Regions from separate parts of the Homo sapiens genome. Here region 2 is linked to region 1. The links come from fine-mapping of genetic effects on gene expression. Tissue or cell type: whole blood. Region 1 holds a variant in brackets; the other region holds the start of a gene. All regions are shown on one strand. Distances are between the middles of the regions. Region 1 overlaps MTERF3 (mitochondrial transcription termination factor 3). Region 2 holds the start of UQCRB (ubiquinol-cytochrome c reductase binding protein).

Region 1 (8,338 bases):
GCTGCTTTTGTTAGACTGCTGCCAGAAACAGCCTTGTCAAGGTAGCACAACCGAGGTCTTCTGACTTTCAATTTAGTGCCCTTATGACTACCGTGCAGAGAATGAATGTTGTAGGTTTGAGGGAAAACTTGGCACATTTGGAGTCCCATTTCCCACCAAAATCTAACAGAAACCACCTATCCCAGCAGGGTATTGTGAATACTTACTTCTTTTCTAAAATCATCGCAGAATGGGCCGAGCGCAGTGGCTCACGCCTGTAATCCCAGCACTTTGGGAAGCTGGGTGGATCACCTGAGGTAAGGAGTTCGAGGCCAGCCTGGCCAAGATGGTGAAACCCCGTCTCTACTAAAAACACAAAAAATTAGCCGGGCATAGTAGCGGGCGTGGGTAATCCCAGCTACTCGGGAGGCTGAGGCAGGAGAATCACTTGAACCTGGGAGGCAGAGGTTGCAGTGAGCCAAGATGGTGCCGTTGTACTCCAGCCTGGGCAACAAGGGCGAAACTCCGTCTCAAAAAAAATAATAATAATAATAATAATAAATAATTGCAGAATGAAAGGAAACTTTCACTTTTGTAAAATCTCTTTCAGCAAACTTCCCAAAACTACAGATCTCCAAGAAAAGATTAGACCCTCAAGTATTTGGTCTAATTTAGAGCATAAAACAAGCTGAATTCCAGTATGCAGAAAAACAAAGTATAAAGTTGTAGGCAGCAATTAATTCAGCAGAATTTTTGTATTTGGTTGTGTAACCAATAATAATGGCTAACATTTATTGAGCATTTCTTATATCCTGACTCCATCCTGTGTTTTATATGGATAATGTTATTTAACGTAAGATTATATGCATCAAATTTACCTTTCTAATTAGCTGGCTAAATATAAAATCCCTTCATATTCCTGGAGTTTAACATAGCACTAGCCTTTCCTGATAAAAATATTTTTGAAAACTACTTTTTCAGTCAAAATATACAGGTATTAATTGCTGGTTGCTTATTTATTTCTGTCACTTGGTTTTGTTACTAGTTTTGACCTTTTCTTTTTGAAGGCTTTTTTCTCCTTTCCTACAGTGAAACAAAACTTGACAAAACTGGTTTTGTTCAATTCCCTTTGGAAGAACAGCTTTATCTGTGAAGTAATCAACAGTGTTCAGCCCTGAGAATGAAGCAAGAAACTGCTTTCACTGTTCTGTATATCAATGATAATATTTTGATGATTTGTTTAGGACACAGTAGATTTCTGTTTTTTCATTTTGGGACAAATTTATATACATAAAATGCATTTGAATAATTCAGTGTTACTTTGATCAGCAATGTGCTGCGGAAACACCCTTCACACCAAATTTCAAGAACACTTATTTGCATCAGCTTATTCTCTTTAAATGATTAAATTAACAGATTAGTGAGGTCTGCTGTCACTTGAACATTTGCAGATTTTTGTTTTAAGCATTTTTCTTACACCAGTGTCATTGCATTTTGTTTTTAAATTGTAAAGTATATCTTTATTTTTCCACTCAGAAGTTCCTGTCTGTTGGTTTGTAACTGAGATTGCCTTGTTGTTGGCTTTTCCTGTACATAAGAAACATCTCACTATTTTAGACTAAATATATATTTAAACACCTTTCAATTAGAAAAAAATAATTTCCAGTTTATCTTTTTGTTGTTTGAATACCGTTTTAAACATTTAAGTAAATTAAATTTCTCTTCTTTTGACGGTTATATCTTTCCTTTGTAGACTAAGAAAAATGGCTTTGTCAGCCCAACAGATACCCAGATGGTTTAACTCAGTTAAGTTGAGGAGCCTCATTAATGCTGCACAACTCACAAAACGTTTTACTAGACCAGCAAGAACACTGTTACATGGCTTTTCTGCTCAGCCTCAGATATCCTCTGACAATTGCTTTCTCCAGTGGGGATTTAAGACTTACAGGACTTCCTCCTTATGGAATAGTTCCCAGTCTACTAGCTCAAGTAGTCAGGAGAATAATTCTGCCCAAAGCAGTCTGCTTCCTTCCATGAATGAACAGTCACAGAAGACACAAAATATATCCAGCTTTGATTCTGAGCTGTTTCTAGAAGGTAATTCTGAACTTTCAGAAAAGTCTCCCTTTCCCTACTTTGGCCATTTGAACAAGCTACCTGTTTACCTTCTGCTAGCCCATTTCAGGTAATATTTTGTGCCAAGAAAGAAAAAGAATAATACCAGTTCTATTGATGAACTTCTATCATGCCTTTATTTTACTGGTAAGAAAAAAAGTTTGTGGGCTAACGTGTAAGATTATTTTATAGCTACACATATAAAACATTTGCTTTTTAAATATTTTATTGTTTAGATTCTTAAAACAAAATTCTTCTAGTGGTAATTAGTTTTATTAGGGTATAATTATATCAAGTAAAATTCATCTTGTGGGATATATAGTTCTATGAATTTTGACATATGCATTTAGTGTGTAAGAACTACTGCAATCAACAAATAAAACAATTATATTAACTCCACAGAGTTCCCTCATGGTCGCTTTTTAGTCAATCCTCTCCTTCCTATGGGTCCTATTCTAGGAATATTTCGCTGGTAATGAAATGATATAAGGTTAAGTAGAATATGAAGGAAAGAGAGCTGGGGAGAGGGCAGGGAGGAGATGCTGGCTATAAATGATGAGAAAGGATAGTTAATGATGAGAAGCACAAAACAGAACAAAAGATCACAGACCTGATTCCTTAGCTTAAGGTAATGTGTAGTTCTAAGTGTCTTCCATGCTGCGTTTGATTTTAAAAAAACAAAAACAACTTCAGAATCAGGGCTGTACTAGAGAGTCACATCTCCTGTAGAGAGGACTGCAGGTTGTAGAAACAATCATAGAAGCCCTTTTAAAGATGTATTTGAGGGTAACTTGGAAGGGAGGGCATTGGGTCAAAACAAAGACTTTCGGGATATGATTACTTTAATCCATGCAATTCAGACTGTTGGCATATGTGTACTTTTAGCCAAGTTAACAGGCTATGGTAAACTCAATCTCTGTTTCAAAATTCACTTGAAAGTTAGGTGATTTTTAGCATTCTCACCTACTGATTAAGTGAAGGAAAGGCATTGTGTGCTTTGAAATTTACCAACAAATTTCTAATCTCAGAGGAACAGTAGTTAGTCTGTCTAAATAGTTGTAACCTTACCTCTTAAAAGGTGAAAAATTAGGGACTTGGATGTTTAATTCTAAAATGATCCCAAGATTTAACCACTGAAAGAAGCAAACAAGGGAAGAGCTGGTCTTTGCAGAAATAGTTTTAAGTGTGCATATTAGAGCACTAATTTGTTTCTCTCTTTCAAAGAACTGGATGAATTGCCTCCATTGTCTCCAATGCAGCCAATTTCAGAGGAAGAGGCTATTCAGATTATTGCAGACCCTCCATTGCCACCAGCTTCATTCACACTTCGAGACTATGTGGATCATTCTGAGACTCTGCAGAAGTTGGTTCTTCTAGGTAAGTTTGACTAAACTACAAGTACTTTTTGCATGTACTCTTCATTACTTTTTTTACTTTTTTAAATTAACAATTTAATCTATACTAAGTAGTATACAAACATAAGCAAAAGTCTAATAGCATAAAGGCTTCTAGTGAGAAACCGTATTCCCTGCCTCATCCTTGGTGATCTTGCATCCTATTCCCCAGATGCATCTACTTAACTTGTATCATTCTTTCTGTTTGTGTTCAACCTCCTCATTTTAAAATAGTTGTTTGTAGTGCTGTTGTTTGGTTCATCAGTTTTAGACATCATTTGATCTCTTGTATGTACACATGTACTTTTCCTGTATTCTTTTCAATTCTCCTAATATAAATTACAATTTTAGATAAATCATTAGTCAGTAGTTAAATTATGACTATAAATATTGCTATCTGCCCTAACAAGAAGTATGCTATCATTATTTACCTTCCTGTACAACTTTTCATTTTTCCGGCAGTAATAGTTGCCTTGTTCTTCATTTGATGAATTGTTTTGTTTGTTTGTTTGTTTCTGGGGTTAAACTTTTCCATACCTTCCAGTAGCCTCTCAGGACAGTTTTTCCCAGGTAACCCTATCAGATGATGTATTTCATTTCTCCAGAGTGGATTGTTCCCTGCTTGTCACACTACCCCGACCTCCTTCCTGAAGCCACTGTCCTCCTGATTTGAATGGTTTCTAGGCCTACTCTATAGCTGCCTTCA[C/T]TTGTTGACCATTAGGTTGCACTTGGATCTGGATAGCTTAAGGGAGCCAGGGGATCTCCGTCCAAACTTTCATTTAGTCATCTTATTTTTAGTCTGGCATTTTATTACAAACTTTTGCTTTCCTCATTTCTCTGGGTTTGGTACTTCTCATACTTGATTTTCCCAGATAATGAATCTCCTTTCTCCTAGTGCATTGAGAGGAACTGGATTTGGGGGAGGTCGGGTCTCTCCATACCCAATACCCCAGTTTTTAGTCTGTACCTCACCTCTAATCTCTCAGATTTCTAGGGACTCCAATTTTGGAGACTTTTGAGTTTTTTGTGGTACTGATCACTTACCACTTGCCAGATTCTCATTTGCAGGCATTTCAGTGTCGTCTTTCTCCTCTCCGATAAGGCTGTTGCCATGCTTTCATCTGTTTTCAGATGTTTTCAGATATGTGGGGATATAATCTCGTTTCCTCAAAGAAGGATCTCATTTTTTGTTTGTCATTCCCCATATTTTTGGGAGGTGATTTTTAACAGGAGAGGAAAAAGAGAAAAATCTGTGCTCTGTTAGAAACTTTGGGGGTCATCCTTGATTTTTTTTTTTTTTTTTTTCTTCAGACTGGGTCTCACTCTGTCTCCCAGGCTGGAGTACAGTGGTACCATCTCAGCTCACTGCAACCTGCCTCCCAGGTTCAAGTGATTCTCCTGCCTCAGCCTCCCTGGTAGCTGAGATTACAAGCACGTGCCACCATGCCTGGCTATTTTTTGTATTTTTAGTAGAGACGAGGTTTCACCCTGTTGGCCAGGCTGATCTTGAACTCTTGGCCTCAAGGGATCTGTCCACCTCGGCCTCCCAAAGTACTGAGATTATAGGCATGAGCCACCGCACTCGGCCTATCCTTGATTCTTATTGCTTTTGTCCCCTTCCTCTTTACATCTAATTTAATAGCTTATCCTATGGATTCTACCCTCTCTATTTCTTTCAAATCCATCCACTTCTCTCATCCTACAGTCACTACCTTGTTTAGGTCCTCATTTGTCACTGAGTGGCTGCAGGAGCCTCCTATCTTGATAGTCTTCTCCTCAGCAGTATTGGCTCTGATATCTTTCCAGTGTTAGTGCTCTTTCTGAAATGCAGATCTAAGTCAGTGACCTATTTAAAATCCTTCAAAACCTTCCCATGGCATCAAAGCTTTTCCTGATTTGGCTTCTGCTTACCTGTTCAGCTTCATGGCTTGCCACTTCCCTCCTTTGTTTAGCCAACTCCAACAACTGGAGAACATCACTGAAGTCCAAGTAACTTCTAAAGTGTCTTCTTGACCCTGCAGACAGAGTGACCCTCTTCAGGCTCTCATTTCACTCCCTGCTTACTTGGATCCTAGCATTAATGACACTCTATTATAATTGTATACTCATCTGTCTGTGCCCAGTTACCCATATGTTACCCATATGTTTAGAATGGCCTTTGTTCTCAAGAAGCTTCAAGTCCTCAGAAACATCTAAATATATAAGAATAACTGGAATGCAAGGATGAAGAGCAAAGTGATAAGTCCCACATGAGAGGCAAATAAAGTGTTCTGTGAATCAGCCTAAGTGTCCATCAGTGGATGAATGGCTAAAGAAAATGTGGTATATTTATACACTGGAGTACTAGTCAGCCTTGAAAAAGGAGATCCTGTTATTTGCAACAACACGGATGAACCTGGAGGATGCTATGCTAAGTGAAATAAGCACAGAATGACTAATGCTACGTGATCTCACTTATATATGAAAGCTAAAAAAGTTGAACTCATAGGAGCAGAGGGAGCTGGGGAGTGGGGTGGGGAGGAATGGGGAGTTGTTGGGCAAAGGGTACAAAGTTTCAATTAGACAGGTGGCATAAGTTTTGGAGATCTATTGTCCAGCATGATGATGGTAGTTAATAATAATGTATACTTGAAAATTGTTAAGAGAGTAGATTTTAAGTGTTCTCACCACAAAAAAAAGTCATGAATATGTAAGGTAATGAATATGTTAATTAGCTTGATTTAATCGTTCCACTATGTATACAAATGTCAAAACAGCATGTTGTATCCCATAAACATATAATTTAAAAAGTGTACATTCAGAGGCAGGAAAAAGATGATGTCTGCTGTGAGGAGACAGTCACTTTTCCTTTCGAAACAGCTTTCCCTGTCTTATGGCAGGTGCTATGGATGATACAAGATAAAACCTAAGACACAGTCCCTGTCTTATCTTTTTTTTGACACAGGGTCTTGCTCTGTCACCCAGGCTGGAGTGCAGTGACACAGTCTTGTCTCATTGCAGCCTTGACCTCCTGGGCTCAAGTGATCCTCCCACCTCAGCCCCGCAAGTAGCTGGGACTATAGGCACATGCCATCTGGGCTAATTTTTTTTTTTTTTTTTTTAAATAGAGGGAGGTCTCACTGTGTTGCCCAGGCTGGTCTCAAACTCTTGGGCTCAAGCTTTCCTCCCACCTCGGCTTTCCAAAGTGCTGGGATAACAGGCATGAGCCACCGTGCCTGGCCTAGTCCTTATCTTTAAATAATTTACAGTATACTTACAGGTTTGGAATATGTTTCAGCCATTCCTTTACCTGTATGCTGATACTTCAACAGCATGTCTTAGAAGTAACTTAAATAATAGTAACTTAGGGGAGCCTTATTTGCTCTGTCAGACAGTATTTTTGAGTACCCAAGTCCTAGTTTTTTCTCTGTTTGCTTCTGAGACCTGTTTTCTGCCCGATCTGTATCCCAGGAGGCCAACCCCTATGCACCAGGGCTCCTATGCCAGCTGGCTTCTTGGCAGCTTCAGCCAGTGGGAGGCACCTACAGGACAGAAGGTAGAAGGGTCAGGTGGGGATATTTTTCCCGTTCCTTCCCTTCTTTGGGTCCTGTACCTGCCTCACTCCATGACAACAGCACTCTTGAGCAGCCCTTCCTTAATAGCCTCTAGTCCCTCTGCGCCGTGGTAACATTTTGCCTCCTTGTCTCTTTATTGTTGGGAAGGCTCTTGTTTGTTCTCTTAAGGCTGCTCACACCGCTGTATAGAGTCCCTTCATTAAAGTCCTTGTCATTTGTACTTTCCAGGGCACGTTGTATAGCCTGCTAGACCCTGATTGATGTACTAAATACGTGTAACCATAACTGAATAAAATGGTAATATTCGTAATTACTGAACTGATGAGGTAAAGCCCAACTAGACTGGTCACCTAGAGGTTAGAATCGTGTATTATTCTTTTTTTATAACCCCAATACCTAAAAAAGTGCCTGGTCCATAGTGGGCATTCAGGGAATATTTTTTCAAGTTAATGAAATGAAGTGAGCCCAAGTTATTTGCATTGAGAGCAGTGTGCATTCCTGATGAGATTCTGCTCTCCTACTGCTGTTAAAAAGCAGCTTTTCAGGATTTCTGTTCGAGCACAGTCAGGGTGTGACAGCTCATGCTGAGCAAAGCACTTCAGTTCATGTCAGCTGTAATATTTAGTTAAATGTGAAGTCTGAACCCTTTATGTTATTTTTAGAGCATCCGCTCCCCCATTTATCACAGATTTTTGGAACTGGTTTTCATCTTATTTATTTGTCCATCTAATAATTGGATTTATTTTTCTACTAATATTATTTTTAAATTACAAAAGAATTACATCCGGTTGTCAAAAGTGCAGATATTATAAGAGAAGGACCTCTTACCCTCTCTTCGTCCCCAGTTCCACTTCTCAAAGGTAACCACTATTAACCAAATTGTGGAATAGCTTTCCAGACCTTTTTCTACACTAGGTTTTATACTATTCTGTAGTTAAACGTAATTTTTTTTGTTTTTCTAGTAGAGTTAATGTATGTTTAGATTCTTTATCTAGAATTAATTTCCGTATAAGATATAAAGATAATTTTTTTCAAAAGTATAGCTAATGGTCCCATATATTTTAACAAATAGTCTATCTATTTGATTTGAAATGCATTATTGTTTGTATAATAACATTTTTTAGTTTATTCTGGATCTGTTTCTCATCTTCATTGAGTGTGCGTATTATTCTGTTTTCACACTGCTGATAAAGACATACCCGAGACTGGGCAATTTACAAAAGGAAGAGGTTTAATGGACTTACAGTTCCATATGGCTGGGGAGGCCTCACAATTATGGCAGAAGGTGAAAGGCAC
Region 2 (8,338 bases), 21 kb after region 1:
TTTAAAGATTAGGGGCAATGAGATATAGTGAAAGGCTTAACTAGCCTTTGACTTATTACCAGTAAACAAATATTTGTTTTCCATTTACAACATGTGTTATCCTGGGCAAGTGATTTCATTTCTGAGCCTTTGCTTTTTTATTTGTAAAACGAAGCATCATGACTTCAGTTGTCTGCCTTATGATCACCAGATTGGGTAGACTGTTAACACTGGGGGCCCCCATGAACCATACCTGGTATTTGCACTCTTGTGTAGTTAGTCCTCTCCCACACTGACTCTGGGCCGATGTGATTTGGCCCAGAGGACATTTGTCAAGCAGAGGCTTAAGGATTTGCACATCAGGGCTTGCCCTCTTGGAACATTTGCTCTTGGCACCCTAAGCTACTGTGTAGAGAGGTCTGGTTACTCTGCTGGAGAAACTAGGTGGACAGAAAGATGTCTGGCCAAACCCAGCTTTTTCAGACATGCCAACTGAGCACCAGACATGCATGAAGAAATTATCTGGGATGTCCCAGACTTAGTAGATACTACACTAAGCAGAACGACCCAGCGGAATTCAGAATTGGGAGAAAGTGTTTTAAGCCGCTAACTTTGGGGGTAGTTTGTTGTGCACAGGGTTCTGTGGTGTGCTGGATGCCCTTTAAAAAACCTCATGAAAAACTAAATTTGTAATTGGTCAGGGCCAGGTATAGTGGCCTTCCTGTTACATATTTTATTCATGCAACCGACATTTGAGTTCTATAATACAGTGGTGAGTGTGGCATAGATATGTGCTTTCATGGAGTTCTCCAATGGATGAGATCAATAAACAGGAAACAATAAAAAATAAGCTGGGGACACCATGGAACCATCCTGTCCTCTCTTTCTGTGGCTCACAACCTCATTTTGCCTTTATGAATAACCCAGTGAACAACCTTAGCAGTCAGAATAGGCAAGTTGTGTTGATACAATGAACAATCCTAAAACCTCAAATGATTGAAAAACCACAAAAGTTTTTATCTTATACATGTTTCTTAGGACCACAAAGGCTCTGCTCCACATCATCTTCAGTGATACAGGTTGATGTATCCTGTCTCCATCATTTCTGGAGTGTTGCCAGTCTATGGAAAAGGAAAGGAATGTGAAGAATTGCTCTTAAAAAGTTATCACATTTTTCTTGGCCAAAGTATCACATGGCCATGCCTAACTTTAATAGGGCAGAGAGGCAATCCCTAATCCTGTGCTGGGAGGAAAGAAAACCAAAAATAGTTTTTGAATCAACAATCACTACCAGCAAACATTCAGTCTCTCTAGCTTAATTCCTTAGGAGCTGGATTTTGTGACAATTTTGGGTTTCAGATCTTTTGATATGTCTTTTCTTGCCACCTTCACCTGTAACCAGCAAGCTAAAACTTAAAGGGTGGAAGGGAGGAGAGTTTATTGAGTACCTACCCTCTGCAGGGCAATGTGCCAATGTACAAATGTACTGCATTTCTTCACATCTTTCAGACTTCACTTTGGCTAGTGTAAGATAGATCATTCATCAGCTTTAGTGCTGTATACAGGACTGACTAATGAAGAAATTGTGACAGCATGGAGATAGAAGAAAAAGGAAAATCAATATAATTTTAGAACTGGAATGTGACTAAGATCGTTAAATCTAACCTTTTGAACTTAGGATGAGACAAGGTTCTACTCTATATTGTCCCAGCTCTGAGCTTAAAACTGAGGGGAAAAAAAAGATATCACTGAGTAATGGTAGAAGTTCACCAGTAACTATCAGTCATGCTAGCTCCCCCTAATTGTTTTCTGTCTCTAGATGTTTATGCCTAAGACTTCGCATGTTGGGGTTGAGACCTTAAAAGTGAGAAAATCTATATACTTCTCTTTTGTCTTAAAATTGTGTGCAAATTCTGCAATACATCTTAGATTTAATCTTTAAAAACCTTTTCTGCTGGGCATGATGGCTCACGCGGGTAACCCAGCATTTTGGGAGGCTGACGTGGGTGGATCACTTGAGGTCAAGAGTTTGATACCAGCCTGGCCAACACGGTGAAACCCCGTCTCTACTAAAAATACAAAAATTAGCGGGCATGGTAGTGTGTACACCTGTAGTCCCAGCTACTCAGGAGGCTGAGGCACGAGTCATTTGAACCCAGGAGGCAGAGGTTGCAGTGAGCCGAGATTGTGCCATTCAGCCTGGGTGACAGAGGCTGAACAACAAAAAAAAGGGTGAAAAAAAACAAACAAAAAAAACCCAAAACCTTTTCTGACCTAACCTTCCACTAAAATAGCTAGATATAGATCTTCAGCTGGAGAAACCCAAGGCCTGAAAGGCTTGGTGTCTTTCCTGGATTAGTAGTGTAGCAGTATAGCATATGACCCTAGAATTAAGGAGCCCCAAATTTGCATCTGGATTTTCAGATTCTGGAAGAAGAACCTGGACTCTTCTAGTCATGTGCTCTTGGACAAGTTATTCAACCTTTCTGAGCCTCAGCTTTCTCCTCTCTACAATGAGATAATTACAGTACTTTTAGAATTAAAAGATAGTTTAGGGGAGTGAGAGATCACCTCCAACCCTCCCTCCCCTTTGCTCTTATGTGGGCTCTTTGGTTGAATCTAGGAACCAAATTGACACATGGCAGATTAACAAGAGAAAAGCATACTAATTTTACTAGTTTTACATGTACATGGGGATCCGCACAAAAGAGTGAAGTGGCCAATGTAAGATGCCTTTATACTTTTTACACGAACTACAAATCAGAAGAAAGGGGATCTGGCTAGGGGCAGTAAATTTCTCGCGGAGTCATTAGGAGAAAAGTGTGTGTGTTGGGGTGTAAACTTAGTGGAAGATAACGGTTACTTCGGAAAGTATATTCAGGTCCAAAGCAGCCCCCAGTTTCGTCTCTGGTGATAGGTGCTATTTTCTCCCTCTGGTAAGGGACGGGTACTCCAGAGGAATCCTGGAGGAAGCTTTATGGCTTGCTGCATGCAGGAAGAGATAGGTCATCAAACCTTTTCTGAAACTACAATTTCTCCAATATTTTCAACTCGAAATAATCAATGTACCAATTCCATATATTTTTGGGATGGCACATCCATCAGTCCTTCAATAGAAAGTAAGACGATGCCCTTAAAACATTTAGCTTCCTGCCTGGCACAAAGAGCTGAATTAATACTGTCCACGCTCCCATAGCTATTAACAGCAAATAACAGAACCCAGCTTTAAGCCTTGGTCTCCTAATTCCTGACCTGTGTTCTTCCCATCACATCACAACCAATACTTCTTAGAATGTAGCACGCAAAATGCCCCGCCTACTCCATTGGCCTCACCCTGGCCGAGAGGTGCTTACGCAGGTGCTGAACGGCAGTCGTCAGAACTGCGCCTGCGCAAGCGGCCTTTCTCTGTTCGCGATGTGACGTAACGCGCCTGCGGACTGGGCCCAGCTTGTCCTCTATGACTTACCCAGAAGGCAACGCTTCTCTTTCTGGTCAAAATGGCTGGTAAGCAGGCCGGTAAGTAACTGGGGGTCTTCTTGGCCGGCATCGTCGCGCTTCACCGTTTATTTTTGCTGCAGCTTGCTCCGTTTTCTCTCTTCTTTGTAAGTGGCCAAGTTTGTCGCGGAAGGGAAATTGGCTGCTTCAGTCCAGTGAAAAGGATGTGCTTCCCCACTCGTTTGCTGTCCCCAGGGCGGGCTTGCCTGTATAGGGTTGGGATGTTAACCCGCTGTTTGTGAAGGTGCCCGCGGTGGCTCTGACAGCCCTGGAGTTCCAGCTGCCCGTGCTTGGAAGTCCTTCCCCTTGGCCTTAGAAAAGTTAAAGGGCACAAGAGGATAACTAGTGGATGACTTTCAACCCGAATGAGCTCAGTGCTTTCTATGACCCAAGTGCTCTATCGTGTGCATTGGCCCTATAAATTTTCTTGCCATTGCGACGAGGGAGATATTAATTTCCCTTTTACGCTGATAAGATAACTGAGGCAAAGTGACCCAAGGAAGTAGAATTGGAAATATCATTGCACCCCTCGCGCTTCTCAAACTGCGAATCAGAGACAGTTGAGCAAGGGATACGAGCGACGCTTCAGGTTGACCTTGGATTATCTAGAGCGTCAGCTTGATCAGTAGGTTTGGAGAAATTTGAATTTATTGTAGGTTCTTTTTTTCTTTTTTCTTTCTTTTTTTTTTTTTTTGCTAATCTCTGCCCTCTGGCGGTACAAGTTGGAGTAGCCGTTTTGTTTGTTTGTTTGTTTTGTCTTTGAGACGGAGTCTTGCTTTGTCGCCCAGGCTGGAGTGCAATGGCACAATCTCGTCTCACTGCAATGCAACCAAGTTGGAGTAGCTTAAAAAATGTTGATCCTTTTCTCCCCGCCCCCAGCAATTGTGAAGCTGTTAGGAAACATCAGGTTGCCAGAAACATCCGTTAACCTAATTGACATTGAGCTTTTTGGGGGTGGGGGAGACTTTTTAAATAATTATTTTATTAATTTGGCAGATATTGAAGGAGTCTTACTAAATTCAAGACACTGCTTCTGTGCGTGTTTGGGAACTACATAGACCAGATCTCAACTCCCATTAGCTAACTCTGACCTTGGGTGGGATCACTTCTGTAAGCCAGCTTCCCCTTCTGTAGTAACAGACATGTAAATAAATCAGCTAATGTTGGTAAAGCAAATAGGAAAGTGTTTGGTGCACAATAAGTGCTTAGTGAATATTATTATAGTCACTGATAGGTGGTTGAATATAATCTGTCTTCCACAAGTATGTTTGTAGATTGTTGACTGATACTTGTTTTTCTAGCAGCAGTTTTATACATGACTCTTAATTTCCAAGGAGATTTGCTAAAGCCACGTAATCTGTAGTGCACTGAGTTTGCAAGCAAGGAGAGTTGAGTGAAAGGAGAGTTTGCTTTCCTTCCTTGGTAAGGGCTAACCCTAGACAAAATTTTAAAAGAGAATACAAACCTGTTCTACCTCTCCTTTTGTAAAATGTCTCTCCTAAAATGTCAGATACGGTCCTGCTGTACTTGGACCCTGCTGGGTTACTTCATCAGGCTCAGCCCTGTTCCCCAAACAGTTTTAAAATTACCTATTTCTCATCCTTTTTCAATATCCATTCCCTTGGGGGGAACTTAGTTGCTTAGGAGGAGGTAAATGGACTTCTTTTACGAATCCATATTAATGTTTAAATGACTAATGGTATCAAAATCCTCCCCAAAATACATACATTTTTAAAGAATGTGGCCAAATGAAATAACTGTAATATCGAGTAAAAATTTTAGAGGATGAGGGTCATTTAGACCTGCCAGTCTATGCTGAAATCTCACTGTCTTTTCCCTACAACTCCAGCTCTCTTGAAATGAAAAGTTTACAATTATTTCCTGTGATCTATTTATGAAACTACAAATGATGGAAATTTCCAAGTCCTTTTCCTATCTCCCACCCCTTCATTTCTGAAGGTAACAGGGCAGGCATAAGGGCACACGATGTACCTATGGATCTTTTGTACATTCAGTGTTTGAGTTTACCCTTTTCTTTCATGACTTGCCACCATTTTCCTGCAACCACTTTTGCTCATAAATAAAATAAGCACTTTTTATCAACATTTTATAGAGTATAAACTTTTTTCTTTTAAATCTAATTCTTTTGATTAAATTCTTGCTGTATATACTATATACTTTTAAAAGGAAATTTATTTCTATGTTTGCATTCATCAGCAAGATAACTGAGTACTGGTTGCTTGCCTATCAATGTGTTCATATAGTATAATTAAATTGTAGCAATTAACAGTGTGACAATTATCAGTTTCAGCATCAGGCAAGTGGCTGGATGGTATTCGAAAATGGTATTACAATGCTGCAGGATTCAATAAACTGGGTAAGCAGCTGTGCTGTTTAATGTTTTTTGTTGTTGTTGTTGTTTCTTTGTTTTTTTTTTTGTTTTTCTGAGAGTATTGCTTTTGCAAGTGTTACTGTGGTTCCAAAAACCATTTCAGTTCTTGTATACATCAGAAGATTTTAAAATTAAATCACATTATGTTAAATCCAGTTCCTTTTTAAAGTTTTTTTGAGAGAAGAGGGATGAAAGCCTCTAAAATGTTCGACTTGGTAATGATTTAAGTAGTAAGACATTTTCCTTCTACACCCCCTTTCCCAACTCTTCCACTTAAAATTTTATTTATTTATTTATTTATTTATTTGAGACAGAGTCTTGCTCTGTCACCAGGCTGGAGTGCAGTGGCGCAATCACGGTTCACTGCAACCTCCGCCTCCCGAGTTCAAGTGATTCTCCTGCCTCAGCCTCCTGAGTAGCTGGGATTACAGGCGTGTGCCACCACGCCTGGCTAATTTTTTTTGTATGTAGTAGAGACGGGGTTTCACCATATTAGGCTGGTCGCAAACTCCTGACCTCAGGTGATCCACCTGCCTCGGCCTCCCAAAGTGCTGGGATTATAGGTGTGCACTACTGCGCCCGGCCTTCCACTTAAAATTTTAATTTAAATTATATAAACATTGAAAGTAGAGAGTTTTTGAATATTAAAATTTTATCACGTCCATGCAATCATATGATTCCTAAGCTTTTTTAGAACTTTGTAATTTACCATGAACTTCATCTTTTACTATTGAAGCTTGAAGAAAGTGTAAGCAAAAGTCACTGTTCCTTAGTATACTATCATTTTAAGATTCTTTAATACCTTGATCTCAGATTTAAACTATGAGAAAAAAGAGATGTGGTTTATTAATGTGTGTTTAAAAACAAAGTAAACATTTAAAATATTTTGTAAATGGTTTAGATAAAATATGAATTTTGTGGCATTGGATTTTAAGAGGCTCATATATTGTTTCCATAGTCTAGTTCAAGAAGTAACCCATTATATCAAGTAATAACTCATTACTTTTAATGGCAAAACTGCAATTACTTTTGCACCAACCTATAATGTATGAAATGCATTGAATTTCCATTGAACCTAGTGATTTGAATTCGATAGTTCACCAAAAGTTGTAAGTTATAAGTCATAAAGGTATTTTACTAATTTAAAAAAACCGCGATTTTTGAGATGCATGTGCAATCTAACTTTGTCATCTATCATAGGGTTAATGCGAGATGATACAATATACGAGGATGAAGATGTAAAAGAAGCCATAAGAAGACTTCCTGAGAACCTTTATAATGACAGGATGTTTCGCATTAAGAGGGCACTGGACCTGAACTTGAAGCATCAGATCTTGCCTAAAGAGCAGTGGACCAAATATGAAGAGGTAGCACAGCTTTATCTACCTGACAGTGTTGCTCATTAAGGATGGAGTTTTAGAAACAAGAGAAACATGTTCATTTGCATAGTGTTAGAGTTCTCTGAGTCATGTCAAATAAATATGTGAGGTTAATAAAGCAAATGTTATTTCCGTTTTAGAAGAAAACCACATTGAGTCTTACGTGTGAAATGATTCTTCTGAAATTACTAAGCAAGTCTCTAATATAGAGAGCCAGGACTAAAATCCAGGTCTGTTGCCTCCCAGGTCTTTGCTGTTCCAGCTCTGCACTCTGCTTCCTACTTAGATGAAAAGATCAGCCCATTGAGTGTCCCTCCAGATCCCAAGAAGAGCTTCTGTGAAGCAAACTCTCACCCCTTGAACTGCATTGAAACTAGGCAAAGGCCTGTGGACATTCATTTCTTTTTCTTCCCGAAAAGACTTCCCCCTCATAACCTATCAAAGCAACTTATCACACCATCACCACAGATTTGACATTTTAAAAAGCAGATAGTTCTTAGGTTGAGAATATGTTTTCTAAAATTGGAAATTCAAAAGTAATTGCTTTTTTCTTGTTATTGAAGACCTGTTGAGTGTTTGGGATATATCAGTACGTGATGGTAACATATAATATTTCATTCATTCTTTAGGAAAATTTCTACCTTGAACCGTATCTGAAAGAGGTTATTCGGGAAAGAAAAGAAAGAGAAGAATGGGCAAAGAAGTAATCATGTAGTTGAAGTCTGTGGATGCAGCTGTTATGAAGATGGTTAAACTTGAAACAAACAATTTTAAGAATTATTTGGTCTGAAGATGTTTTACTTTAAATAAATGTCTATTGTAATGGCTGGAGTTTTTGAATTCCAAACCTTATACTGAATAACTACTGAATCCCTTTACTGTTAAATTTTTTTCCAAACTTTCAAGATATATTTAGTTGTGTTTAACTGCTACTTGGAGCTCAGAAGCCACTTTATCAGTTTTCCTCACTGGTTGGATAGCCTATCAGTTTATGGAAGGATATAACTTCCGTAAGTTACATCCTTATGGAAGCTACTGAATAAAAGAAGGGGGTATGCACCCCCTAGTTTGCCAAGATTGAGAAATAGCCTCT

The links.
Region 2: it holds the start of UQCRB, and the variant in region 1 is fine-mapped to the expression of UQCRB in whole blood (TOPMed, PIP 0.97).

The regions. Positions count from the first base shown.
Region 1 is chr8:96,252,095-96,260,432 of GRCh38, reverse strand. MTERF3 (mitochondrial transcription termination factor 3) reads left to right here. Exons shown (of 8, transcript NM_015942.5): 2 at 1,733-2,076; 3 at 3,319-3,471. The coding sequence starts at 1,743. Among named protein-coding and RNA genes, the nearest start is that of MTERF3, 5.3 kb to the left of the region's middle. RefSeq lists an enhancer at 1-70. The variant C/T (reference allele first, on the strand shown) is at 4,195.
Region 2 is chr8:96,230,669-96,239,006 of GRCh38, reverse strand. UQCRB (ubiquinol-cytochrome c reductase binding protein) reads left to right here and starts at 3,462. Exons shown (of 4, transcript NM_006294.5): 1 at 3,462-3,495; 2 at 5,780-5,851; 3 at 7,067-7,233; 4 at 7,875-8,338. The coding sequence starts at 3,477. The coding sequence ends at 7,952. It overlaps UQCRB-AS1 (UQCRB antisense RNA 1), which reads right to left and starts at 3,714. Exons shown (of 2, transcript NR_183275.1): 1 at 3,446-3,714; 2 at 1-1,100. RefSeq lists an enhancer at 3,456-3,735.